7 linked regions of the Homo sapiens genome follow. The protein of the gene in region 5 purifies or fractionates together with the protein of the main gene of each other region. This does not show direct contact. Each region holds a gene or a part of one and is shown on either strand. Other genes may lie near its edges. The genes, in order: NDRG3, SLC12A6, MARCHF6, TPCN1, TMC4, SLC12A7 and ANO6.

Evidence for each region.
Region 1: the proteins of TMC4 (region 5) and NDRG3 purify together in Homo sapiens (affinity purification with mass spectrometry; one large-scale study listed by BioGRID and IntAct). This does not show direct contact.
Region 2: the proteins of TMC4 (region 5) and SLC12A6 purify together in Homo sapiens (affinity purification with mass spectrometry; one large-scale study listed by BioGRID and IntAct). This does not show direct contact.
Region 3: the proteins of TMC4 (region 5) and MARCHF6 purify together in Homo sapiens (affinity purification with mass spectrometry; one large-scale study listed by BioGRID and IntAct). This does not show direct contact.
Region 4: the proteins of TMC4 (region 5) and TPCN1 purify together in Homo sapiens (affinity purification with mass spectrometry; one large-scale study listed by BioGRID and IntAct). This does not show direct contact.
Region 6: the proteins of TMC4 (region 5) and SLC12A7 purify together in Homo sapiens (affinity purification with mass spectrometry; one large-scale study listed by BioGRID and IntAct). This does not show direct contact.
Region 7: the proteins of TMC4 (region 5) and ANO6 purify together in Homo sapiens (affinity purification with mass spectrometry; one large-scale study listed by BioGRID and IntAct). This does not show direct contact.

What each region holds. Positions count from the first base shown.
Region 1 is NC_000020.11:36,652,091-36,655,590, forward strand, and holds part of NDRG3 (protein NDRG3), read right to left. Parts: intron 2,750-3,500; coding exon of another isoform or gene 2,711-2,749; intron 1,612-2,710; coding exon 1,430-1,611; 3' UTR 1-1,429.
Region 2 is NC_000015.10:34,327,782-34,331,281, forward strand, and holds part of SLC12A6 (solute carrier family 12 member 6), read right to left. Parts: intron 1-3,500.
Region 3 is NC_000005.10:10,409,195-10,412,694, reverse strand, and holds part of MARCHF6 (E3 ubiquitin-protein ligase MARCHF6), read right to left. Parts: intron 2,557-3,500; coding exon 2,419-2,556; intron 1,363-2,418; coding exon 1,158-1,362; intron 1-1,157. UniProt on the Homo sapiens protein: Endoplasmic reticulum membrane-associated E3 ubiquitin ligase that plays a critical role in mitigating endoplasmic reticulum stress, the regulation of cholesterol and lipid homeostasis, and ferroptosis.
Region 4 is NC_000012.12:113,276,964-113,280,463, reverse strand, and holds part of TPCN1 (two pore channel protein 1), read right to left. Parts: coding exon 3,429-3,500; intron 3,225-3,428; coding exon 3,100-3,224; intron 2,276-3,099; coding exon 2,227-2,275; intron 1,693-2,226; coding exon 1,629-1,692; intron 314-1,628; coding exon 269-313; intron 1-268. UniProt on the Homo sapiens protein: Intracellular channel initially characterized as a non-selective Ca(2+)-permeable channel activated by NAADP (nicotinic acid adenine dinucleotide phosphate), it is also a voltage-gated highly-selective Na(+) channel activated directly by PI(3,5)P2 (phosphatidylinositol 3,5-bisphosphate) that senses pH changes and confers electrical excitability to organelles.
Region 5 is NC_000019.10:54,170,361-54,174,370, reverse strand, and holds the start of TMC4 (voltage-gated chloride channel TMC4), read left to right. Parts: upstream 1-1,210; 5' UTR 1,211-1,253; coding exon 1,254-1,332; intron 1,333-2,269; coding exon of another isoform or gene 2,270-2,287; coding exon 2,288-2,501; intron 2,502-4,010. Other genes in the region: membrane-bound acylglycerophosphatidylinositol O-acyltransferase MBOAT7, read left to right, coding at 1-327. UniProt on the Homo sapiens protein: Voltage-gated chloride channel involved in high-concentration salt taste sensation. Depolarization induced by high NaCl concentration may trigger the activation of TMC4-mediated chloride influx into taste bud cells, helping the return to resting potential.
Region 6 is NC_000005.10:1,074,064-1,077,563, reverse strand, and holds part of SLC12A7 (solute carrier family 12 member 7), read left to right. Parts: intron 1-751; coding exon 752-870; intron 871-1,327; coding exon 1,328-1,426; intron 1,427-2,073; coding exon 2,074-2,193; intron 2,194-2,892; coding exon 2,893-2,997; intron 2,998-3,500. UniProt on the Homo sapiens protein: Mediates electroneutral potassium-chloride cotransport when activated by cell swelling. May mediate K(+) uptake into Deiters' cells in the cochlea and contribute to K(+) recycling in the inner ear.
Region 7 is NC_000012.12:45,222,595-45,226,094, reverse strand, and holds part of ANO6 (anoctamin-6), read right to left. Parts: intron 1-3,500. UniProt on the Homo sapiens protein: Small-conductance calcium-activated nonselective cation (SCAN) channel which acts as a regulator of phospholipid scrambling in platelets and osteoblasts.

The sequences.
Region 1 (3,500 bases), on a different chromosome or scaffold from region 5:
CCTACAAAAGGGAGTTCATAGGATTAACAATCTTTCTAATGGCTGGGAGCAATGACTCATGCCTGTAATCCCAGCACTTTGGGAGGCTGAGGCAGGTGGATCACCTGAGGTCAGGAGTTTGAGACCAGCCTGGCCAACATGGTGAAACTCCATCTCTACTAAAAATACATAACTTAGCTGGGTATGGTGGCAGGTGCCTGTAGTCTCAGCTACTCGGGAGGCTGAGGCAGGAGAATCGCTTGAACCCAGGGGGCAGAGGTTGCAGTGAGCCAAGTTTGCGCCATTGCACTCCAGCCTGGGTAACAGCGAGACTCTGTCTCAAAAAAAAAAAAAGACTCTGAGAAATGGGTTCTGTATCAATTTAATTTGGCTTCCATTACATCTACTGAAATCAAGGCTATACTTGTTAAACATGATACTGTGTTAATGGCTGTTCCTCTCCCCCCACCCATTTCTCCCCCATCTACATGCTTTTTAGGCCAAACCTCTCCCCTTTCTGGGAACTGAGGAATGGAGACACACTCTCTGTCACAGACCTAAGAGGCACTTCTTGTGGATATGTGGATGTCTGGTATCAGATACTGCAGCGACAGCAGTTTTGCTCTTCAGAGCAGAGGCCTGGCATTTTGTTTCCACCTTCCTGTGCTAAGAGAGTCCAGTAATTAAACCACATTCACTCCTTGGAAAAAACTCTATGTTGTATCAGAACCTCAGCGATGGTTCATGGGCTTCCAGCAGAATATATTCCTCCCTTTTATTTATAGAAGAGTATACAGAAATTCATTTGGACAGAAGGAGCCTCTCTATGTAACAGGCACCCTTCTGCTACTGGTCACAATCAATCAATGGTCCAGACGGCAATTATGATTTTCCACATTCCTCAAAGCTGCTCTCTCCTGAAATCACTTTGCAAATTTTGTTGACCAATTTGCAAACAAAAGAGAATGCAGTGGCCTACCCAACCTAGAAATCTGTTCTGCCTAATTCCCTTAAAAACACCATTGAGAATGCAAAATAAGTCCCTTTTTTGTTTTTTGCAGAAGCACTACAAGAAAGCGTGTCTAAAACCACAGAACTATGCACACACAAACACAGACACGCGTGCTCGCACACACAGAGTCGGGATCAAAGAATCTTATCTGATACATAGTTGGGGGAGCACGGGAAAAAGCTGGCAAGAGAGGATATGGAGAGATCTGATCAGCTAAAGATGTTGGAATGTTACAGTATGGCATGGAAGTGGTTCTTGGGCTATACAAAAAAGGGGGTGGGCAGGCAGAGAGAATGATAAATCCAGGCTACTAGAGAGAGGTTCAGTGGCCATGCATGAGTTAAAGATAGTAGAGGCCAGTTTACTGGATGAAATGTTATATTATGGAGTGGTCATTTGAAGGATGGACTTGCAATGGTCCAGGGGAGGAGCATCTGCTTAGCAGGACACCTCCATGGTCTGGTGTCTGTCCAGGACATCAGGGGACTCACAGGATTCTTGAGTTCCATCTGACTGATTGCTGGTGACAGACCGGCTGAAGGGACTTTCTCCAGAGCCGAGGCTACTCGAGGTTGAGTGGGTTCGTGATCGGGCGAGCCGAGTCATGCTGGCAGATGGTACTGTAACAGAGAACCAAGGGGACTAGAAGATGAAGCCCCGGTTAAGCCCAGCTAACCTAGGAGTCTCATCAAAGTCTTTATGTTTAGCTTTTCCGACTCATTTACCATGACACCCAGGACAAGATATAGCCATCCCCATTTTGTATCATTTGCTCTAGGTGAGTGGCGATATGTGAGGCCACTTTAATCCTTTAGATCTGGTTGGAATCTCAGCTGATTGTAGTCACCGCAGAACAAGGGGAAACCCTAAATCCAGAGTATAGCCTCTTAACTATGCCCACACCATTCAGACAGTGACAGAATGGAGGCTTTGGGAACCCAAACAGGTAACCAAAACCTACAGTGCATGCAAGACTAAACCAAAAGAAAAGAAAGACACACACACAAGTATGAAGGTGTTTCACAAACACAGTGCAAGCCCGATACAACGAGACTACCATCCGTGTCCACAGGCTACCTTGCTACCAGGGAGGAGATTTGTAGGATGGTGCAGGTGAAGGGGAGGGCAGATTGGCTTGGAGCTGACCTCAACACAGGGATGAGGTACAGGTTGCCAGGGACAGAGAAGCAGGTGTTTAACTCAGACTCCTGTTCTGCCACTGCTTGACTCTAAGGTCCTTCCAGCTTGGCTGGGACTGGGCCTTACCTGGCATAGCCTCCCTGCCTATCGTCCTGGGCAGCAGCCACTCCCCTAGCTGTCATTTCAATGCTGGGGTCAAAAGGTGCTATCATCTGCAGAGTTCTCTGGGCACAGGCTCTGACCCTCCTATTTAGAGCCAAGGCTGCCCTTGGATTCCTGTGTCTGGAGGTTAATTCAAGGATCAGTAGGTGGTGGTGGAAGATGGGCCCTGCCTATCAAGTTTCAGCTGCTGCTGTGACCCTGGATTTAGGATGACAAGAGGAGGCCTGCCCCTTACAACCAGATCCTTTCCTCCTCCTGGGGGACCAGGGCTGGACCTGTAGGCTAAATCTCTTGGGGCGTACTGAGCCACGTTCTATCGGGCTCTCACTGCATAGGAAGACCGCGGACATGCTGCAGGCAGCCAGTGCAGCCAGGAGAGACTGGAAGGCGGGGCAGGGCCAGCACAGAGGAAGGTACCTGACTCGGTGCTCAGGTGACTGAGCTGCACATACGGGACTGGAAGCAGGATGGACACAGGAAAAGGCAGGTTAGTGACCCCAGAGTGCCAAGTGGCAACCTCAGCTGCCTGGTAGACACTGACAGAATACTCTAAGCCAGGGATAAAATTTTATTTTAAGGTCCCAGAGAGGAGGTGAGGCTGACAGATACTTCAATAACATCTCAAATGTTACTTTCCTCAACTAGACAAAGGCAATTGTTTTCCCCTCTGCTATAAACAGTCATCTTGCTTTGGATCAGAAGTGGGCTGGAAGATCAGCTATTTCATAGGAAAAGGATAAGAATGGACTAGGAGAGGGCCTCCTGCTCCTCCCAGTGAGCCACAGGGCTGTGGGTGTGGGCTCGGTTGGTAGCGGCTCACAGGCAAGGATGACACAGCCACTTGAGACAAGACATACATGGTCTGCCTGGCAGGTACAGGGCTGCACCCAGGGCCCAGCTGCCCAGAGCAGCTGACCAGACAGCTCGCCAATGACCATTATCCACACTAATACCAAAGACAGGAGAAAAATCACCCTACTGGGTAAAGAGCTCTGTACCTGGGTGAAAGAGTTTTTCTAAAAACTCCAAGAAAGGAGCAAGTGTAGATAATTCTGTGACCATGAAAAAGCTCAGAGGTCTTACAATACAAGAGACCAGGACAATGGCATATGATATGGACACACCCTTGGACTTGCTCTAAAACACTCTCCAAGTTCGTCCCCTGGGGTGGAGGAGACTTTACCAAGGATACTGCCCTTTTCTCCTG
Region 2 (3,500 bases), on a different chromosome or scaffold from region 5:
TTTAACTTATTAGTGTTCTCTCTTCTCTCTTTTTTTAAACTAGCAATATGAAAAATAAATAGCTTTACCCCAAAGTAAATGTAGACCTGTCTGGTAAAATGAGAGAAATTCAGGTGCTACTTTGCCAAAAATTAAAGTTATTTACCAAATGGTTATGACTATAAACAGGTGAATGTCATCAATTGAGTTTTTTGCTCAAGGCCACGACAAATATAATGAGGATTAGCAATGCCGTAATAAAACTACAAACAAAAAGCTGCCATTGGTTAAATTAGCTAGAAAACTGGAGACTGAAACCCAGCTCTGAGCTAAGATAACAGGAAATTTTAAAAAGAAAAAAAAAAAGACTAAAATTAGAAGACCTGTCATTTCCTAACAATGTGGCTTTTGTTTTCTATTTCTACAGTTTTCAACTACAAAAACTGAAATTTTAAGAAGAAAAAAACTTCAGCCGTTACATTTTTTTCAGTTAAGACATCCAAAGGTAACTTCAAAACTTCAGGTTTCGCAAAGCCCCTCAGACTGACTTATTTACAATACTGACTTGATTCTGAAATCTTGTTAAGTATAAATTCCACTTTAACAGTAGCTTAAAAATTCTTCAAAAGTAAGACGCACCTGAATATCAGAAATGTTAAAATATGGTAATGTACACACCTTAGAGCTGAGCAAATATGGTGATAGTGTTTCCTACTCATCAGGTACTGAACTACCATTAAGGCAAGGTGCTGTATGCATGTGTATATGTTGTATGTTCTGCAGTTTTGTGCTTGTACCTTCAAATGTAATTGTTGAGATTCTTAAAAGTATACCAGGGCCAGGTGCGGTGGGTCACACCTGTAATCCTAGCACTTTGGGAGGCCGAGATGGGCAGATCGCTTGAGCTCAGGAGTTCGAGACCAACCTGAGCAACATGGCAAAACCCCATCTCTACCAAAAGCCAATACAAAAGTTAGCTGGGCATGGTGGTGCATGCCTGTAGTCCCAGCTACTCAGGAGGCTGAGGTGGGAAGATGGCTTGAGCCCAGGAGTTCAAGACTGCAGTGTACTACAGTTGTGCCTCTGAATAGCCACTGCCTACCCAAGTCCAGCCTGGGTAACAGAGCTAGACCCTGTCTCAAAAAATAAAAACATATATACACTGAAGCACTAATTACAGGGTTTTAACAGAGAATAGCTTCTTGTTTTTCCACATACTTGTAAAACTTATAAAACTTCATTAAAAGAATACATTGTTTTAACATTCAAATGCTCACATAATTCCTACACTATAGCTCTCCAAACTTTCATACCTACTCCTCAGAAACACACATCACCAAAAACTTAAACTCATGTAACTTCATTATTCTGAAACAACAAGCTCACCAGCTACAGCTGTGTAGACAGTGCACGAGGGCATTAAGCCAGAAGGGCAAGGGGAAGAGGGTTGAAATCCAGCTTGCCCTTCTCCAGTGAAGTCATGATGGCTCAGGGCACAAAGGAGTGCCTTTTTAGAATTTGCACAAAGTTCTTAGTAGTCCAGAAGTATATGTTAGACACGAAGGGCAAAAGAAGCAGCAGCCATAATTCAAAAGCTTACAGCATTATAAGTTGCCTTAAACATCAGCATTAGAAACATTCCCCTTCTTCTAACAGCTTTAAAATGGGAAAGCATAACTTTCATAAGGTTCCCAGGTTTGCAGGAGTACCTTCTTTCATTTCCTTCCATTCCAGTAAAGGTAATATCAAAATTTATGAGAATCTGGAATCTAGAAACATGCCACTGAGAACAAAAGAATTTGGGCTCATGATGGAAAGACTTAGTGAGGACACAGAAGAGACCACCGAAGATCAAAGACAAGAAGTTGAGGTAATCACTGTATTGATCACTGATATTTAATCAAATATCTACAGCATTCTAGGACACACTCAAAAGAAAATCCTTTAATTGTAATTTAACCTTTTTAAAAATTGGCCAGGCATGGTGGCTCATGCCTGCAATCCTAGCACTTTGAGAGACCCAAGTGAGAGGATCACTTGAGCTCAGGAGTTCCCAGACATCTTCAAAGATAAAAGCTAAGAAATAGTAAAATGTACCTTTTACTCTACTTCAACAAATTATAAACATTTGCTAATCTTGTTTTGTCTATCTCTCCCCAACTTTTTTGGGGAGGAGTGGGGAGGAAGGAGCTGGAGTACATTTCATTTAACCTGTAAATACTTCAATATATATCTTTATAGATAACAGCTTTACATTATCACAATGTCATAAACATCTATAAGAAAATTAACAATTCCTTAATATTAATATCATGTACATGTTCAAATTTCCCCCACTCGTCTCAAAAGTATCTTTTTTCAATTGTTTTATGCACATCAGAATCCAAACCAAGTTCACACACTGCATTTGGCTGATACGGCTCTTTTTATCTGTAACAGCTTTCCCTCTCTTCCCATCACTCCTCCTCCACCCCATCCCAATTATTTGTTGAAGAATCTAGTTATCCAATAAAACTTCCCATATTCTGGATTTGGCTGATTGCTTCTTGTGGTATAAAGCAGTATATTATAAAGTTTAATCTGGCTACAGAGTATAGAGAAGAGAGGAAAAACAGTTAAGGTATATAACCAGCTGGGCGCGGTGGCTCACGCCTGTAATCCTAGCACTTTGGGAGGCTGAGGTGGGCTAACTGCTTGAATGCAGGAGTTCGAGACCAGCCTGGGCAACATGGTAAAACCTTGTCTCTACAAAAAAAAAATTAGCTGGTCATAGTGGTGTGCACCTGTGTTCCCATCTACTCAAGAGGCTGAGGTGGAGGACTGCTTGAGCTCAGAAAGTTGAGGCTGCAGTGAGCCGTGATCACACCACTGTATCCAGCCTGGTTGACAGAATGAGACCCTGTCTCAAAAAAAAAACAAAAACAAAAACAAAAAAAACAAAACTATCAAGAGGATGCTTCTTTCAGACAAGCTAAGAAGGTACCAAATCAACATATTTTAGCTATTAGAATGCTGAGGTAAAACATGGATAGTATTCAATAATTATATAATATAGAAGACTTATTTAAGAGAAAGGTAATAGTCCATCCTGGCCAACATAGTGAAACCCTATCTCCACTAAAAATACAAAAATTAGCTGGGTGTAGTGGCACGTGCCTGTAGTCCCAGCTACTGGGGAGGCTGAGGCAGAAGAATCACTTGAACCCAGGAGGCGGAGGTTGCAATGAGTGGAGACCGCACCATTGCACTCCAGCCTGGGCGACAGAGTGAGACTCTGTCTCAAAAAATAATAATAACAATAATAATAATAAGTAATAGTCACCTATGATTAGCAAAACAATATAATTCACTTATTTTGGTGTGTGACTAAAAATGATAATTTTGTTTTTTGTTAGGTTTTGTTTGTCAGGGTAGAGGTATTTATTTATTTGAGACAGAGTCTCGCTCTGTCATCCAGGCTGCAGTGCAACTTCCGCCTCCCAGGTTCTCATGCCTCAGCCACCTGAGTAGCTGAGATTATA
Region 3 (3,500 bases), on a different chromosome or scaffold from region 5:
CTGAGTAGGTAGGAGGATCGCTTGAACCCAGGAGGTTAAGGCTACAGTGAGCCATGATCGCACACTGCAACCAAGCCTGGGCAACAGAGCAAGACCCTGTCTCAAAAACAAAACAACACAACTCTCTTATCTGCAATTCTAAGCCCACCATGCCTAATGTGCCCTAGTCCTGACATATTCCTGGAATGCCCTTCCCACTTCCTTTTTTTCACTCTCTGACAGGTCTCTCAATGTTTAAGACAGTTCAGGCACCACCTATTCTAGGAAGATTCCTTTGGGTCCATATTAAGAACAAGTGGTTCTTGATTGAAGGAGTCACAGCACCCACTGTAAACACCAGCATGAGAGCTCAAATCTGCCACTGTCTTTCTCATCTGAGTAGACTGTAAGCTCTTTCTGAGCAAAGACCACGTATGCTCTCTATATCCTCACAGACACTGAAAATATCAATCATAGACACTTAAGACATGTTTGCTGAATGACTGAACACATGTGACCCACAGTAATCTACAAAGGTATAATAATGACTATTTTTACAAAAAAAGAAATGTGAGGCTGAGAGGTTAAATAACCTGCCCAAGTTTTAAAATGATCAGACTCACAAGCCCATGTCATTATTAAAGGGCATTTTAAAATAACAGACTTGATATAAATGATGACTTCACTGTAATCATATAGCAGTCATCAGCTTACATTTCTGACAAAATTCTGAGGTGCACAAAGATTGATCACTTGCTAACGAACATGTAATAGGCACATTCTTAACCAATATTGCCTTCAGTTTCCTTAGCTATAAACATGAAATTATCGCCTACACTTTGCAGTATTTGAGTGGAGATTAAATGAGAAAACATCCAAATGCCCATTCTAGTTCCTGACACACTGTTGAAATGTATCAATAATGTTAGTTTCTTAATTACTCTAGAGTCTTTTCCTCTTAAATAGGGAGCAAGAGCCCAGGGAATCCCAACTCTTTGACTTATCTCTAAAATTTGATAAACTTACCTAATCATTTACGTTACATAATGAGGGTAATAAAATGTGGAACATGTCTACACAGAGGACTGCATACTAATAGCACCAATTCTCAACAGCAATTTGGAGAACAAAAAAACCAAAAAAACCTCTATATGTGATTAAGTCTGTATAGCACCTACCCTGAGTGGAAAATTTAAAGGTCGGCGGTAAGGCTGAAAGCCAACAGGCCCTCCCTGCTGGAGTATGGCTTGGTGGGCTGCATGAAGGCCTTCTCCCACCACAGGAATAGCGTTGTTATTTCGAGCATGCTGATTATTGTTAACTTGTTGATTTGCACTGTTTTCATTTTCTTCCTGGTCTCCCAATAAATAAGAATGAAGATCCCTGTGCAAAAATTACATCAGTAACAAGTCTCACTTCAGGTCACAATAAAATGGCAGACATGACACTCATTTTCTTCATATTTACTACTAAGGGTAGAAAATGTATAATACAGAATTTGTGCACCACATTATTACCTAATTTTGGTCTAAATGTTTGTACCCACTTTAAATCAAACCTTTCTAATGTTAATGAACTTGTAGGATATCCCATAAATTCAACCTATTTTACGTTTTCTTCAGCCAGTATCTGAGAAGAAATCAGTAACTGAAAGAAAAAAGTACAATGTACAAGATACTTACAAGTACACTTGTAAGTACAAGAGGTAAGTACTTACAAGCACAAGGTGTAAGTACATACTTACAATGTACAATATTGTTAAGGATCTACAGGAGGAAAAGAAAAACTTCTTATCTTCTCTACAGATGACTACTGCAACATGTAGCTACAAGCTATAAATTTGTAAAACCTCCAAGCTATAAATCAGTTAGGTCAGAAATGAGACTGGGGGAGGAAGCAGTTAGAGGACGACAGATGTTCAAGCAAATATAACCAAATCTGTACTTCACCTTTAAGATACCTACAAGATGCCAAACTGAAAAACTTTTAAAGATTCAACTTTTAAATAAATATAGAGTATATAAAGCTTGGGGAAAAAAATGCAACATGTTCACTAGAAGATTGAGAAATCAAATTTGAGAAGAACCCATTTCCCAGGTTATGAGCACTAAATAAAGGTAAGTTAGTTGGTCTAAATAAAGGTAAACTGGTTTGTTTTTAATGCACTAAAAAAAAAAAAGACATTTACTCCATGAAAGCTGGACCAGCAGCAAACTTCTATAAGAGGGCAAAAAGATGTATATATTCTCCATGAAAGGATGGACAATAAGAAAAAAAAATTTCATTTAGAAGTATTATATGCAATTGCAAATATTACTAAATTGTCTCTTATTAAAACTAATTTTTCTTGAGTGGGCCATGGAACATACTTTTTCCAGAAAGGTTATTCCATAGTCACAAATGACATGCATGTCCAAGGAGTCAGCTGCCCATACTCACAGCAAGTATCCGGCGGTCACAGTCCACGCTCGCACCAGCCCCTTCAGCCACTGCCTCGTGTGTCCCTGTTCGAGTAATGCTGGCAAGACAACCTGAAGCAGAAGCAGCTCGAGGGACAGTTCACTCACTGGAGCATCACTGAAAGAGGCAGGATTTATAATGTGAATTGTATTTTGCATATGACTACTATTTAATGGGATTACAACGCAACTTCTTAAGAATCTAATAAACTTACTGTCTTTATTACCTCTCCTTTCATTCTCTCTCCAACTCAGTGAGGCTTTCCCCACAAACTCCACCAAATTGTTTCTGATAAGGGTCACCAAAGACTTTCATTTTGCTAAACTGATGGGTAGGTCTTGGTTCTCTCCTCACTTGCTATATTAGTAGCATGTTACACAAAAGGTCACTCCTTCCTTTGACACCTCACATCCAAACAGCTAGAGAATCCTTTTGACTGTACCTTAACAATATCCTAAAAATTTCTCAAGGCCTCCACTGCTACCTCCCCTTCATCTCTGCCACCCTCACCTCTCACCAGGATCATTGCATTATCCTCCCAGCTGGCTTCCTGTTTCTGACCTAGCCACTCCAACCCAGTTTCCTCTCATCACAGCAGTCAGAATGATCCTCTTTAAACCTAAGTTAGATCACTCCTTTGCTCAAAGCTTTCCAAGAGCTCCTCAATTCACTCAAGCAAAAGCCAAAGTGCTTATGTCGTGTAAGACTCTCTAGGAGGTGGCTCTCCATGACCTTTCTGACTTCAGGGCCAATTCTTTGCCTTCCTCCTCCTACTACAGACAAACTTGCCTCCCTGCAGATCCTCAAACAGACCTGGGTGCCACTGCACCTACTTTCTGCAAGAATATTCTGCCTTCAGGGATCCACGTGGCTCACTCTCTCAACTCCTTCAGGGCTTTCCTCAACTGTCACCCCCTCAGGTCTTTACCAGTCACTATTCCTAAATTGTAACCCCATCCTGCCCACTTTCTATACCCTTACTGGCATTTTTTCTGCCACTTTAAATAATCAGGATATAAGTATTTTCCAATTCTAATTTAATAAAATACAAATTTGAGATT
Region 4 (3,500 bases), on a different chromosome or scaffold from region 5:
ATATCGACCAGTCAACTCTGTGGTTCTGGAATTTGCTTCCAAAAAATCTAGGTCTAGAGAGGATGATGAGCCGGAGTGAAGATACAGATGGGTGATGGGCACGGGGATGCGTGTGGTAATGTTCTCTTCACTTTTATACATGCTGGGAATTCCCCACAATAAAAAGTCAAACACAGGACTCTAGGACCAATCTCTTGCCTCTCCCGCTTCTAGAACAGCAAAGGACTCAGGGGGAAAGTGGCCTAGAGTGGAGATATTTCACACTTACACATGAAATACTGGAAGGCCTTGGACTTCACAAGGATATTAATACCTATTTGAAGAAAAGACAAGTTAAAATGTAAATTTACGCACTTGTTCCCCCTACTGTATCCTTAATTATTATTATCTCTTTCTGGGCAGGTGCAACCACCTACCACACTCTTCGTGCATGCAGGTAAGCATGGTCTTTACCCCAGAGGTGAAGAAAGGAGGGTCCTGCTCAAAGAGTGGTACCCATGCTTCTGCTCAGACCCCCAGACAAGACTGCACTGACTACAGCTGCTCTGGGGGGAGCCTGAGCAACCTGGAACCAAGATAGAGCAGGACAAAGCTCTCCTGATCACTGCTGAAACTGGCATGAAATTAAGGGGCAACTGTCAGGTAAATAATACGAGCACCCAATTTCAAATTTTCAAACTTTACACTACACAAGCATTATTCAAGGGGTCATGCAAAGTATACATCCTGCCATAAGAGGAGGGCAAAAATATATTATCGGGGTCGGGCGCAGTGGCTCACGCCTGTAATCCCAGGCCTTTGGGAGGCCGAGGTGGGTGGATCACGAGGTCAGGAGTTCAAGATCAGCCTGGCCAGCATGGTGAAACTCCATCTCTACTAAAAACACACACACACAAAATTAGCCGGGCATGGTGGCACATGCCTGTAGTCCCAGCTACTCGGGAGGCTGAGGCAGGAGAATCGCTTGAATCTGGGAGGCGGAGGTTGCAGTGAGCGAGATCGCACCACGGCACTCCAGCCTGGGCAACAGAGCGAGACGCCGCCTCAAAAAAAAAAAAAAAAAAAAAAAAAATATATATATATATATATATATATATATATATACACACACACACACATATATATACACACACACACACACACACATATATATATACACACACACACATATGTGTTATTGGATGAAAAGGCAGATTACAGAATGGAATATATAATGTCACCCTACTGTTTTAAAAATGCATAGAAAAATGGCACAGAGGGAAACACATCAGAGAACTAACAGTGGTTATCTGGGTGGTAAATTTCCATTTACTTCTAATTATCTCACTTTCAAGTTTCTTCAATGAACATCTTTGCTTTTGTATGAAAAAAGAAAAATACCCCAAATGTCTTGGTTGGGTTAAGTTACCCATTTTGGTTGGGTTAAGTTACCCATTTCTCTCCCAATCTGCTTCCTACCACCCTTACGTCCCTGCTGGGGTAATCACACTGTCTCTTCACACAGGCATTCAGACAAACACACACACACACACACCCCTCTGAACCTCTCCTCAGACGCTTATCTGTGGTCTCTGAAAACCTCCATCGGCCCCCAGCTGCCAACACCTGCCATACTCAAGCCCACTTACCTTTGAAGATGAGGAGCGCCGTCCTGGGAAGCTCATCAAACCAGTGCTCTCTGTTTTTCTTGGCCTGGTAGACAACAGGACCAAGAGGGAGGGTGTCAGGGCCAGGGACCAGGGCCCTGCCTGGAGCCAGGATGCTGGCTTCCTTTCCTGTTCACCCTGCTAAACTGGGGAACAATGTTAACCTTCAGGGATCTACATGACAACACAGCCAGCCAGTGTGTACCGAGCGTTTACAATGTGCCATGCAGAGGCCTTATTTTAGTATAGTCCTGAAATGAGGTTTGTCAGTAGGGATTATCCTTACGCCACTTCCCAGGTAAGACAAGCCTCAGAAAGGCTCAGTAACCCGCCTGATGTCACACAATAACCAATGGGGTCTAAGTAAGATTCGGTGCTGTTAACGATGACACTGTATCACAAATGTAAGGGCAGATTTGGGGGCTGGGGCCACCTGTGATCCCTGAAGTGTACCATGCCAAGCTGGGGGCTGAGCTGCTCTAGCAGGGAGAGAGCTGGATCTCGGGGTGCCCCTGCTCCTCACTGCCCCACGTGGGGACCTCTCTGTCTACTCCTTCTATGGTCTCAGAGAAGAACTCACCTTCCACTTCAAAGCAGCAACTTCGTAGATATCGTAAAAGTCCTTTAGGCTACCAAAAGCAAAATAAAAAGGGACAAAATATCAGAACATAGTTCCACTGTGCTTTGCTTCTCTTACTTGCCTGCCTATGGACACCTTTATGGGGTGAGGGAGGAAGAGAGGGGACACCATGTGAGTCCCAGCACAGCAGTGCTGGGGGATCCTTTACCTGCAAGCGTTTGGATCTCCTCTGACCTTGAGGTACTACAAATATGTAATCCACTTAAGTCTCCACCGATGGCACTAACTACGGACAGTGTCAGTGCCCTGGAGAGGCAGCTGCTGGAGCACTAGGATTCTTAGGAGGACGGAAACTTCACTTTTTAGCAGGGGCCTTAATGCAACACCTGGGACTGCAAGTTCAGCTCAAACAGGGCTTGTTCTCAGCTCCACAGCAGGCTGCTGTGGACAGGGCTTGGTCATCAACAGCCTGGAAGACCAATCCTACCCCTGGAGATCTCGGGTCAGTTCTCTGCGGCCGAGCCAGGTGTGTGCAGGGGATTGGGGAAGTATATTCACCCCTGTCTGTCCACCTGGCTCACATGGGACTATCCCACCCCACTGGGGGTTCGAGGGCCAGCAGCTGGGCCAGTCCACTTCATGAGCTCCTTTTTTCTCAAGTCAGCTTGAATTGGATTTGTGTTGGACTTTTGTCACTTGCAAAAGGCATCCTGATGAATCCAGTGTGTAAGTCTACATGGATAAACATCTGTGGAGGAAGTCTCTGACAAGCCTATAGGCCTGCCCACCTCAAGGGCCTTCACATGCCCCCGTTCACTCTAGACGTGAACACCTTGTCTGGCCATGCTGCCCCTACCAGGCATCTGCTCTTACCTGAGCAGGGGTGTGTTGTTCTGATTCAGGGCCTTGAAGGTAAGATAGCGCTCCCTGGCACTCATCCGGGGCTTGTAGAAGCGCATGAGGCCTTCAAACTGCCTGTAGGAGATGCCGGCAGGCCTCTGGGGGAGAGGGAAGAGCAGTGTGGAACCCAGGCTACTCCCCTTCCCTTGGGGCACCCACTCCAGATCCACTCCAGCTCTGTTCATTCTTCCAAGGGCAGGGTTCCTGGTTTCTAAAGTGGCTGGCCTGGCCATGCTTAGGGGCTGCTCTGGGCAAGGGAGGGAGGACAGGGACCAAGCCCCTCCCTGGCCCATAGTTCCTACCCTCTGGCTGATGAGCAGGCGGTAGGCATGCTGGATAGCGGTTCGCTTGTGCAGTAGCAAAGACTTGAACTT
Region 5 (4,010 bases):
AGCTTCCTGACCATCCCGCTGTGCCTGGCTGCCGAGGGCCGGCTGGAGTCAGCCCTGCGGGGGCGGCTGAGCCCAGGGGGCCAGAAGGCCTGGGACTGGGTGCACTGGTTCCTGAAGATGCGCGCCTATGACTACATGTGCATGGGCTTCGTGCTGCTCTCCTTGGCCGACACCCTTCGGTACTGGGCCTCCATCTACTTCTGTATCCACTTCCTGGCCCTGGCAGCCCTGGGGCTGGGGCTGGCTTTAGGTGGGGGCAGCCCCAGCCGGCGGAAGGCAGCATCCCAGCCCACCAGCCTTGCCCCGGAGAAGCTCCGGGAGGAGTAAGCTGTCACGACGCTCCCTCTGCCAGCTGGTCCCGGGAATTCTGTGAACCAGGCTGCTGTCTCCTCCCCAGAAAGAGTCCTTACCTTGGAGAGGGTCCTGGAGAGAATTTCCTCTTCCCCAGCTAAATACCCTGCCTGCAACTGAAGCAGACCCGGGGGTGTCCTCCCTGCCCTCTGCCCAGAGGCCACCTCCACTCCTACAAAATCAAAGTATTGTCCAGACAAGAGTCACTGGCCCCTGCTCCAGCTTCTGGGTATCCAGAGAGCACTGCACTTCCCCAAAACGGAAGGGGCCCCTGGGCAGTGGGTTTTGGGCAAATTCCCTTTCTTTGCATCCACAATGTGGGGTCGGAGCTTGGGGGCAGGTCCTGGGAGTGGGAAGCCTCTTCCTTGTGTCTTTCGCTCCACTTTTAGCTCATCGCACCAATATTGCAGACTTGGAAGGAAGCATAAGCTTCCCATTTCACAAAGGGGAAACTGAGGTGCGGGTGCGCGGGCCTGGGGACGGCCGTCCCATGGCTTCCATCTGAGCCACCTCGGGACCCCAGCACTCCTGGCGCCCTCTTCTCATCGCTTGGCCTATGACAGGTCACCGTGTGTAAATCTTTCCCAATAAAGTGTTGCACAAAGGCATCGTGTCCGTGCAGGTATCTGGGTGATAAACGGTGGGAAGGACTTAGTCCACCAAGTCCCAGGGTGAGGTACAGCCCCCCCGCCCAGCCCAGGAACCAAACTGTGAGGCCCGGGGCACCACGGGGACTTCAGCTCCCAGGAGACCTTTCGCATCAGCGGCCCTGAGAAACCACAGGAAGTGTACCTTACTCCCTCCGGGCCACCTGCTGGCCAGGTACACACCTGCCCCTGGCCCCTCCCTTACCTGGGGCAGTGTCTGCCTGGTGGCCACTAGAGACAGCCCAGCCTGGGGCCATGGAAGAAAACCCGACCTTGGAATCAGAAGCCTGGGGCTCCTCTAGGGAGTGGCTGGCCCCCCGGGAGGCCAGAGGAGGTAGGGAATGCCAGGAGAAGCTCAGATCCATCCGACCTTCAGGCTAGGTGGGAGTCCTGCTGGAGGAGGAAAGGGGAGGCCTGGCCTCCTGAGTCTGAGGGCTAAAGAGAGAAGGTTCCACTTCCTGATATTATGGGGGAGAAGGGAACTGGAGGCTGGAACTCCAGGGTCTGAGGAGGAGGAGCCTGGAGAACCAGGCTAGTCTGGGAGGAGGGGAGGGCTAAGGGCTGGGAGTTTGGGTGTCTTGGGAATAGGAGAGGCTGGGTTCCCACACTCCTGAGCTAGAGGGAAAAGGAAGTTAAAGCCTGGACTCCACTGCCCTGGAGTAGGAGGGTTCCACGCTTGGGGATGGAGTTGAGGGCTGTGGACCCCTGGGTCCAGGGGAAGTAGAGGCTGGCACCCGGACTCCTGGGCCTGAGGGAGGAGGGGCTGGGAACCTGGTTTCCTGGTCTGAGGGAGGAGGGGCTGGGTGCCTGGATTCCTATGTCTGAGGGAGGAGGAGCCGGGGGCCTGGACTCCTGGGTCTGAGGGAGGAGGGGCCGGGGGCCTGTTCTCCTGGGTCTGAGGGAGGAGGAGCCGGGGGCCTGGACTCCTGGGTCTGAGGGAGGAGGCGCCGGGGGCCTGTTCTCCTGGGTCTGAGGGAGGAGGAGCCGGGGGCCTGGACTCCTGGGTCTGAGGGAGGAGGAGCCGGGGGCCTGGACTCCTGGGTCTGAGGGAGGAGGAGCCGGGGGCCTGGACTCCTGGGTCTGAGGGAGGAGGAGCCGGGGGCCTGGACTCCTGGGTCTGAGGGAGGAGGAGCCGGGGGCCTGGACTCCTGGGTCTGAGGGAGGAGGAGCCGGGGGCCTGGACTCCTGGGTCTGAGGGAGGAGGGGCCGGGGACCTGGTTTCCTGGTCTGAGGGAGGAGGAATTAGGGCCCAGACTCCCGGGTCTTCCCAGCCCCCTGCTCCTCCCCAGGCCCATCGCTGTCTTCTGTGCTGAACGAGCTGCCCAGTGCTGCCACCCTTCGGTACCGAGACCCTGGGGTGCTGCCTTGGGGGGCGCTGGAGGAGGAGGAGGAGGATGGAGGAAGGAGCAGAAAGGCCTTCACAGAAGTCACCCAGACAGAGCTGCAGGACCCTCACCCTTCCCGGGAACTGCCCTGGCCCATGCAGGCCAGACGGGCACACAGGTGAGGCCCCACCTCCAGCTGGGACCCGCACAGCCCGGACCGGGCCCTTCTCCCATACCCTGGACTCGGTCTCCTCCCTCTGTCCTCTGCCGCTCCTGGCTTCTGGGGCCTCTCTCTGCCCCGCTCAGAGCTGCCTCTCTTGGTTTCTTTCTTCCCCTCATCTTTGTCTCTACTTCGGACTCCAGGTGAGTGCTGCCTTTCGATGGCTCTGGGGTCTCTTCTCTCTGGGATTTGCCGTCTCCCTGGTCTCCACCAATCCTGTCTCTGCCTCAGTTTCTCTCTGTGTGTGTGTCCAAAATCTGTTAATATTTATTTCTCTCTGCTTTATACCTTCCTTCATCTTTGCCTCCTCTTCCAAGCCTCCCTCTCTTTAACTTCTTTCTTTTCCCATTCTCACTGCATAATTTGCAGGGCCTGGTGAACAATGAAAATGCAGGTGCCCTCCTTCAAAAATGATTATGGGCCCATTGCAGTGGCTCACACCTGTAATCCCAGCACTTTGGGAGGCCCAGGCGAGTGGATCACCTGTGGTCAGGAGTTCGAGACCAGCCTGGCCAACATGGCAAAACCCCAACTCTACTAAAAATACAAACATTAGCTGGGTGTGGTGGCGGGTGCCTGTAATCCCAGCTACTCGGGAGGCTGAAGCAGGAGAATCGCTTGAACCAGGGAGATAGAGGTTGCAGTGAGCCAAGATCGTGCCATTGGACTCCGGCCTGGGTGATAGAGCGGGACTCCATCTCAAATATATATGCGTATATATATGCATATGTGTGTATATATATACACATATATATGTATATATATGTGTATATATATGGAAAAAACAATAAAAAATAACAATGTATCAACACTCCCACACCGATCAGTAGTGGGATCATGCCTGTGAATATAGCCACTATACTGCGGCCTGAGTAACATAGCGAGACCCCCATCTCTATTTTTTAAAAGTAATAATCAAAGTAACAATATGACAAAAAATAATACAAGTTAAAAGAACAGCTATCTATATAACATTTACCTTGTACCGGGTGTTATAAGTAATCTAGAGGTGATTTAAAGTGCATTGGAGGGCTGGGTGTCGTGGCCCATACCTGTAGCCCCAGCGCTTTGGGAGGCTGAGGCGGGAGAATTGCTTGAGCCTGGAAGTTTGAGGCTGCATTGAGCTATGATTGCACCACCGCACTCCAGCCTGGACAACAAAACGAGACATTTGTCTGTAAAAATCAGATAAAAATTAAAATAAAATAAAATAAAACAAACACAGGAGGATGTGTGTAGCCTGTATGCAAATACTATACCGTTTTATATAAGGAATTTGGGCATCTACAGATTTCAGTATTCTTGGGGAGTCCTTGAACCAACCCCCATGGATACTGAGGGATGGCTGTATTCATAAAGTGAGAGCCCAGATAAACTCCAGCTAGGGCAAGTGACACGGCATGACAGCACCCTGTGCGTCCCTCCCCTGACACCCCCTTTTTCCTCACAAATACAAGGTAACCTCTT
Region 6 (3,500 bases), on a different chromosome or scaffold from region 5:
CCAGAGGTGCCTGGTCTGTTGTCTGGTCAGAAGCCCTCTGCCTGCCTGCCACATCTTTCTCTGTGTGGCTGAGCTCTTCAGCCCGTGGGAGGTGGCGTCACCAGCCACCTGCAGCCAGTGTGTGTGGCTGCTCTGAGGATTGCACGGACGCCCGCATGGGTCCTGTCCGTGTGCTGTGCCCAGAGCTGCCGATTGTGGCTCCTCCTGCTACCTGGGCCCAGGGGCAGCTGTGGGAAGGTCGTGGATGGCAGAGCCATCCTTGCCCGTCGCTGGTCCCTCGGCAGGGTGCCGACCCGCAGGGCCTTTGTGTGGTTGCATCTTCAGTCCCAGCCGGGCCTAGGGCATGGTGTCCAGGAAGGGGACAGGCACACAGGCCCCGTGGGCCTCAGCTTCTGGGAGGTGAGGGTGGCCTGATGAGAAAGGTCACCACAGGGTCTGGGGAACCGCGAGTGCCCTGGAGACGCTGGTCCTGTGTTGTGTGGTCGGGGAAACTGAGGCGGGGGGGCAGGCTGGGGCCACACAGGTTGCAGGCAAGCCGGGCGTAGGCACAGCTCTGAAGCCTCCTGGGCTGCAGCCCTTTGTCAGGGCTTCTTCCCAGGCCAGCCGCGTGATGTCCCGGGGACCTACTGTGAAAGGCGTTTCTGCTGGTCTGTGTCTTTAAGATTCATCTGGGCTAGACCTGACCAGCCTGCAGCTTCTCTCCTAAAAGGGTGGTGTCATCTGCCCCATCTTCCTGCCCTTCTCCCTGCAGGTGTTTGGCCACGGGAAGGCCAACGGGGAGCCCACGTGGGCGCTGCTGCTGACAGTCCTCATCTGCGAGACTGGCATCCTCATCGCCTCTCTGGACAGCGTGGCCCCGATCCTCTCCATGTGAGCCCCCACAGGACGGGGACCTGGGGATGGGTGTATGGGCCTGGAGCGTGGGGCAGTGTGGATGGGAGGTCCTGCTCAGGACAAGCAGTAGACAGGCATGGCCAGCTGTGGGCAGTCAGGATCCTGCCGGGAAGGGAGTTGCGCCGGGGAAGACAAGTACACAGGCCTCCAGGCAGCCGCCCGCTGGGGTCAGCCAGGGACAGTGTGGCTGGACAGACGGCTGCTGGGGAAGGGACGATGGCCCATCTCTTGATGGACCAGGTGGTCACAGGATGGCTGGAACCTGAGGGGGCCTGATTCGGAATCAGTCTGAGTCAGCTCACGTGCAGAGACAGACATGGGGAGACAAGGCGCAGGTGGGAGGGACAGTGACAAGGGTGGTCTCCCAGGTGGCAGTGACTGGGGGCTCAGGGGGGCCCAGTGGGCCCGTATCAGTGGCCGGCCGTCCCTGCAGGTTCTTCCTCATGTGCTACCTGTTCGTGAACCTGGCCTGCGCCGTGCAGACCCTGCTACGTACCCCCAACTGGCGTCCACGCTTCAAGTTCTACCACTGGTGAGGCCACTCAGCACGGGCGTGAGGAGCCCCACAGGCTGGGACACTGGGTGCCTCTGCCACTGGTGAGGCCGCTCAGCACAGGCGTCAGGAGCCCCACAGGCTGGGACACTGGGTGCCTCTACAAGGCCAGCTGCTCTGGGCCTGAAGACCCCAGCGCGTCCTTGACTGTTCCTTTGCGGAGTAAGCCCCTGCGCAGCTGATGAGACTGCACCTGAGGAAGGCCTCTGGTTACGAGGATGCCCAGGTGTCTGCATGTGCCTTGTACCTCCCGTGGTCAGCCCAGCCTTCCCAGGCTTGGGGCGTAGCCCATCAGGGCTGTGGGTCTTCTTAACTCCCCTCCCCAGGAATCAGGCGCTGGGTGGACGCTTCAGCCCCTTGTTGCATGCACAGCCGAGGTGCTGTGTGCACGCTGGGAGCTGGAGCTATGTACTGGGTTTTGGAGTGACAGCTCCCACAGGGGCCCAGGGAGCCACGTCACCCCTCAGAGGTGGTTGAGTACAGCCATGGTCGTCAGGCGTCAGTGACTGTTTTCCTAGTGTTAACAGAGAGTTTTACTGAGGGAGGGGCAGTGTCCGTGTGGTGGTGGCTGAGGTGTGGGGGCTGCATGGCGTTGGGCCGCCCCGAGCCACTTGCCCCGCCCCCAGGACCCTGTCCTTTCTGGGTATGAGCCTGTGCCTGGCGCTGATGTTCATCTGCTCCTGGTACTACGCGCTGTCCGCCATGCTCATCGCTGGCTGCATCTACAAGTACATCGAGTACCGCGGGTAAGCGCTGTCAGCCCCCCTTACAGACCCGGCGCACGGGAGGGCGGGCCCCTCTCATGCTATGCCTGGGGCAGCTCCCTGGAGGGGCCTCCCTGGGGCTTGAGCGTCGTGTGCCCTCACAGGGGCAGCTGGGAGCACGTCCAGGTGGGCTGTGTTGTGAAAGCTGGGGTTTCCCTCCCACTTCCAGCCAGGCCGAGGTGCCTGCACTTGTGGACAGGGTCTCCAGCCTGGAGCTCTGTCTCGTGCCGTCCTCAGCAGGCGGTGAGCCCACGGCTGACTATTCCTGCTACGTGTCTCGCGAGGTGTCCCCAGGTTGTGTCTGTACTCACTCGGCAGCCACAGGCGTCCTTCCCCGTGCCCCAGCACCCACCCTCCCTCCACCTGCACCCGCCTCGTGCCCGGGGTCCAGCCACTTCCCTGTCATGGGCCTCCTGTCCCCCGTCCTGTGAGGAAGGCACCTCACGCATGCTGGACGTAGACCTCGTTCCCTCCACAGCCACAGCACCCTCTGACCCGGTGGCTCCTAGGACGGGCTCCCTTCAGGGCAAGGGTGGGCATGGAGGCCTCCCTCCTCATCCAGGGACTTTTCCTGGGGGTCCTGTTTGCCCCAACTCACCTGCCCCCAGAAGTCCCCTTTCCCAGGTGGGAGAGGAGCCTCCAGGTACGCGGCTGGACAAACCCCGACTTCCTTTCCCACAGGGCCGAGAAGGAGTGGGGCGATGGCATCCGTGGCCTATCCCTGAACGCCGCCCGCTACGCCCTGCTGCGCGTGGAGCACGGTCCCCCCCACACCAAGAACTGGAGGTGAGCACCGCCCATGCCCCGTGGTCCTCAGACGCACAGAAGAGCTGTTTCTGAGGTCGGCCTTTGAGTGGGGACCTTTGAGTCTCAGGGGCCTCTCACCTTCAGCCGCTCAGGCAAGGTCTGGGGTGTGAACACTGCCTGGTGCAGAGCGGATGGCGCAGCTGGGGGCCGGGGGTGTCCCTGCTGCAGGGTGGGGGTGTGGGGAGCCGGCCCCTCTGCCAGCACAGCCCTGGGCTTGGGGTGGGAGAGGGTGGCTCCTGCTGAAGCAAAGGCCATCTTTGGGAAGCCTCTGCCCCTCAGGGCCTCGGCGGGGGCCTCAGGTGTGTGCCCCGGGCCATTGTCCCCTCAGGGGCCTCGGCGGGGGCCTCGGGTGTGCCCCGGGCCATTGTCCCCTCAGGGCCTCGGTGGGGGCTTCAGGTGTGTGTCCTGGGCCATTGTCTCACCTGTCTAGCATGTCACCTGTCCCACCTGTCTAACCTACCTGTTCTCCTGTCCTGCCTGGC
Region 7 (3,500 bases), on a different chromosome or scaffold from region 5:
CATACTCATCTACCAGTATTCTTCAAACTGCTTTTTGGGATGGATGCTAATTAATTTTAGTTGCAATGACCAAAATACAAAACTAAAGAAAAAAAAATAATGTCATAAGACAATCATTTGGCTGAATAAAATTCCTTCAATCTGTATCTTTACATATGATTTACCAATCAGTTGAGTAGTACATTTCGTTGGCTAAAGGTAATTGGAAATATTTTCTGTTCTAAAATTGACTACTCTTGCACAGACCCAGCCCTGAATTCATTATAATCAGACAGCTTAAATCATATGGCATGCAAAGCTTCCATTAAAATCTAAAAATGTCTCACGCCTGTAATCCCAGCACTTTGGAAGGCCGAGGCGGGAGGATAACGAAGTCAGGAGATCAAGACCAACCTGGTTAACAGGGTGAAACCCCGTCTCTACTAAAAATACAAAAAAATTAGCCGGGCGTGGTGGTGGGTGCCTGTAGTCCCAGCTACTCGGGAGGCTGATGCAGGAGAATGGCGTGAACCTGGGAGGTGGAGCTTGCAGTGAGCCCAGATCTTGCCACTGCACTCCAGCCTAGGAAAAAGAGTAAGACTCCATCTCAAAAAAAAAAAATCTAAAAATGTCCCAAAACATATGTTTTGTTGAACATCTACTATGTGAAAAACATTACGATATTCAGGCTGTGAGATACAAAGATGAATAAGAAATCTTCTCCCCGCTTCAAGACGAGTGTTTTTGGTTAAGATGTACAGCTAAAATACAAAATACACACCAAGTAAAGTGTAACAGAAGAAAACCTAAAGGATTAGAGTGAAAACTTATTAAAATACAATCATTTTAATCATCTGCTACAGATATCACTAAGAGATCAATATCATCCTTTAATTTAAAGCCAAATCGTGAGTTTTTTTTTTTTTTTTTTTGAGACAGGGTCTCTGTTGCCCAGGCTGGACTGCAGTGGCACAATGACAGCTCACTGCAGCCTTGGCTTCCTGGGTTCAATTGAATCTTCCACCTCAGCCTCCAAAGCAGCTGGCACCACAGGCATGTGCCATGCCCAACTGATTTTTGCAGTTTTTGTATAGATTGGGTCTTAGTATGTTTCCCAGGCTGGTTTCAAACTCTTTCGCTCAAGCAATATTCCCACCTTGGCCTCCCAAAGTGCTGAGATAATAGGCATGACCCATCATGTCCGGCCCTTTATTTCCGGTATTCTTAATCCTTTATAATCTCCCTTCAAGAATATCAGAATTAAAATCCCATATAACTGATGGAAATTTTCATAGGAGCATTTGGTCTAAATTTCTAGGCTCCCAAAAGAAAAAATAATAAATGTAGAGCAATCGACATATGTGACTGCTGCAACCCCTTGAGAAAAGACGAGTGTGTATACAGCTAAAATACAAATTAAGTAAGAGTAACTCTTATTCTTTTAGAGCTGTGTTTGTCTCAGAACCAAATAAAGTATTTTAAGAGGATACTGGAGGACCTTTTGGAAAGCTATTATTTGACTTGAAAGAATGTGCAAGATAAATCATGTCTGTGGACTTGAAACTGAAAATAACAAAAGGTTTATAAAAAGAAGCAAGACTATTCTAAAAGAGAGTTTGAGGATAGTTTGCTTTGTTTTTAGCTGTCATCTCCTTGGTAGAGAGTGTGCATACAGACACACACACACATATGTATATATAATGTATACATATTTATACATGTGTATATATTTATGATATGTACACAACATGATCCCCTTGCCATCGTGAATAAGGCCAGGGTGTATCAAGATTTAATTTTTGAGAAATCATCATGCCTTTAGAAACACTCAGGACGCTCTGCTGTCCTAGCCCCATGCCCTCACCTGTCTTTTCATCCCAACAGGGCTGGCTCAGGTGCTGCCCCAATAGAGCTGTCCTGGATTCCCCTAGGCAAGGTCACGTGCTTTCTCCTTGGTATCACCACTGAACCTGGTACAGATCTTGATTACAGTATTAATCACAAGTTACTGAAATTATCCGTTTCCTTTCTAGACAGTGAGGTACTAGAGAACAGTGAACCTGGAACCTAGCAGAGTGCCTGGTAAAATACATACACTCAGCATTTTTAGAACAGATAACTGGGGGTATCTCAAAGTGCCACAGAAGAAGAAAATTCTACTAGGGCCATAAAACCACTAGGCATTATGTTAATCAAGTTATCTTAGAAGAATAAATCATCCATTCCTTCCACAATTACTTGCTTGGCTCCTACCAAGGTGCCATGAGGGACACAGCTTAAAACACAAAACACACAAGGTACCAGTCTTCAGGGAGCTTACATTTTAGAGGAGAATGAGGAAAAGAGACAACTCTTAAAAATTATAGCAATGGAATATGTACAATATTTAAGATATTTTGCATGATCTCTAGAAGACTTAAATAACCTAGGCCAGTCACCAAGAAATGTACACTATGGTTATGGGAATGATAAACGCAAAGATAATGAATAACAAAGACAAAATACAGGATGAATGCTAACTGCATAGAACAAAAAAATAAGTGAGAATTCATTGTGAGCACTTTGGGCTAAGAGGATCATTAACAACTTTCTGGGTTTGTGACAGACTTGGGAGGGGAGGGAGGCTGTGAGCAGAAAAACACTAAGTGTTTTTTCTATTCTCTTATTCAACAATCAACACAGAAGACTTCAGTGACCAAATGTGCAAGGATTTCTCCCCAGCAACAAGCAAGCAATCAATTCTGCAGTGGATACCAGCTGGGTATCCTCCAAGTGAATTCTGACACTATTTACCTGGAGATGGTGTCAGATCCCACAGTTAAGGGTTCAGTCCCACAAAATTGCCCCCCACTACTTCTGATGCCAATCACAAGCCCCGGGTCATTTTACCTATGCTTCTGATGAACTGTTTATAAATTGGGGTTCCCACGACACCCTCCTTGGGTTCCATTAATTTGCTGTAGTGGCTTGGGGAACTCAGGGAAACACTTCCCGTTTACCAGTTTATTATAAAAGATAAAGATGAAGAGATGCATAGAGTGAGGTATGCGGGAAAAGGCACTGAGTTTTCACGCCCTCCCAGGGCAAGCTACCTTCAGGTACCTCCACTGTTCAGCTATCCAGAAACTCCCTGAACCAGTCCTCTTGGACCTTTATGGAGACTTCATTGGATAGTCATGATTGAACCATGTTGAAAAGTGATTGGACAAAAAGCATACGATTTAATACTAATAGACTGAATGGGGAAACCCAGCAAGGCCTGTCTGATCAGATTTTTCTGGCATCTCTGTGCAGCATTCCTTCCTCCAGGGTATGGGGCAGGATCCCTTCTGAAATGGGGGTCTTATGGCCTACATTCAGACAAGGTAGATGGGAGAATTTCTTTATGGGCAGTTCTCACACAGAAAGATGGGGAAAGATTATAGTTTTAGTTTCTAAAATTGGAGAGACAAAGGTAAAAATAGGGCAGGTCAAAGATGGAGATTGTTTTCTGAGGCCTGCTTCTGCTTCTGAGGCCTAAA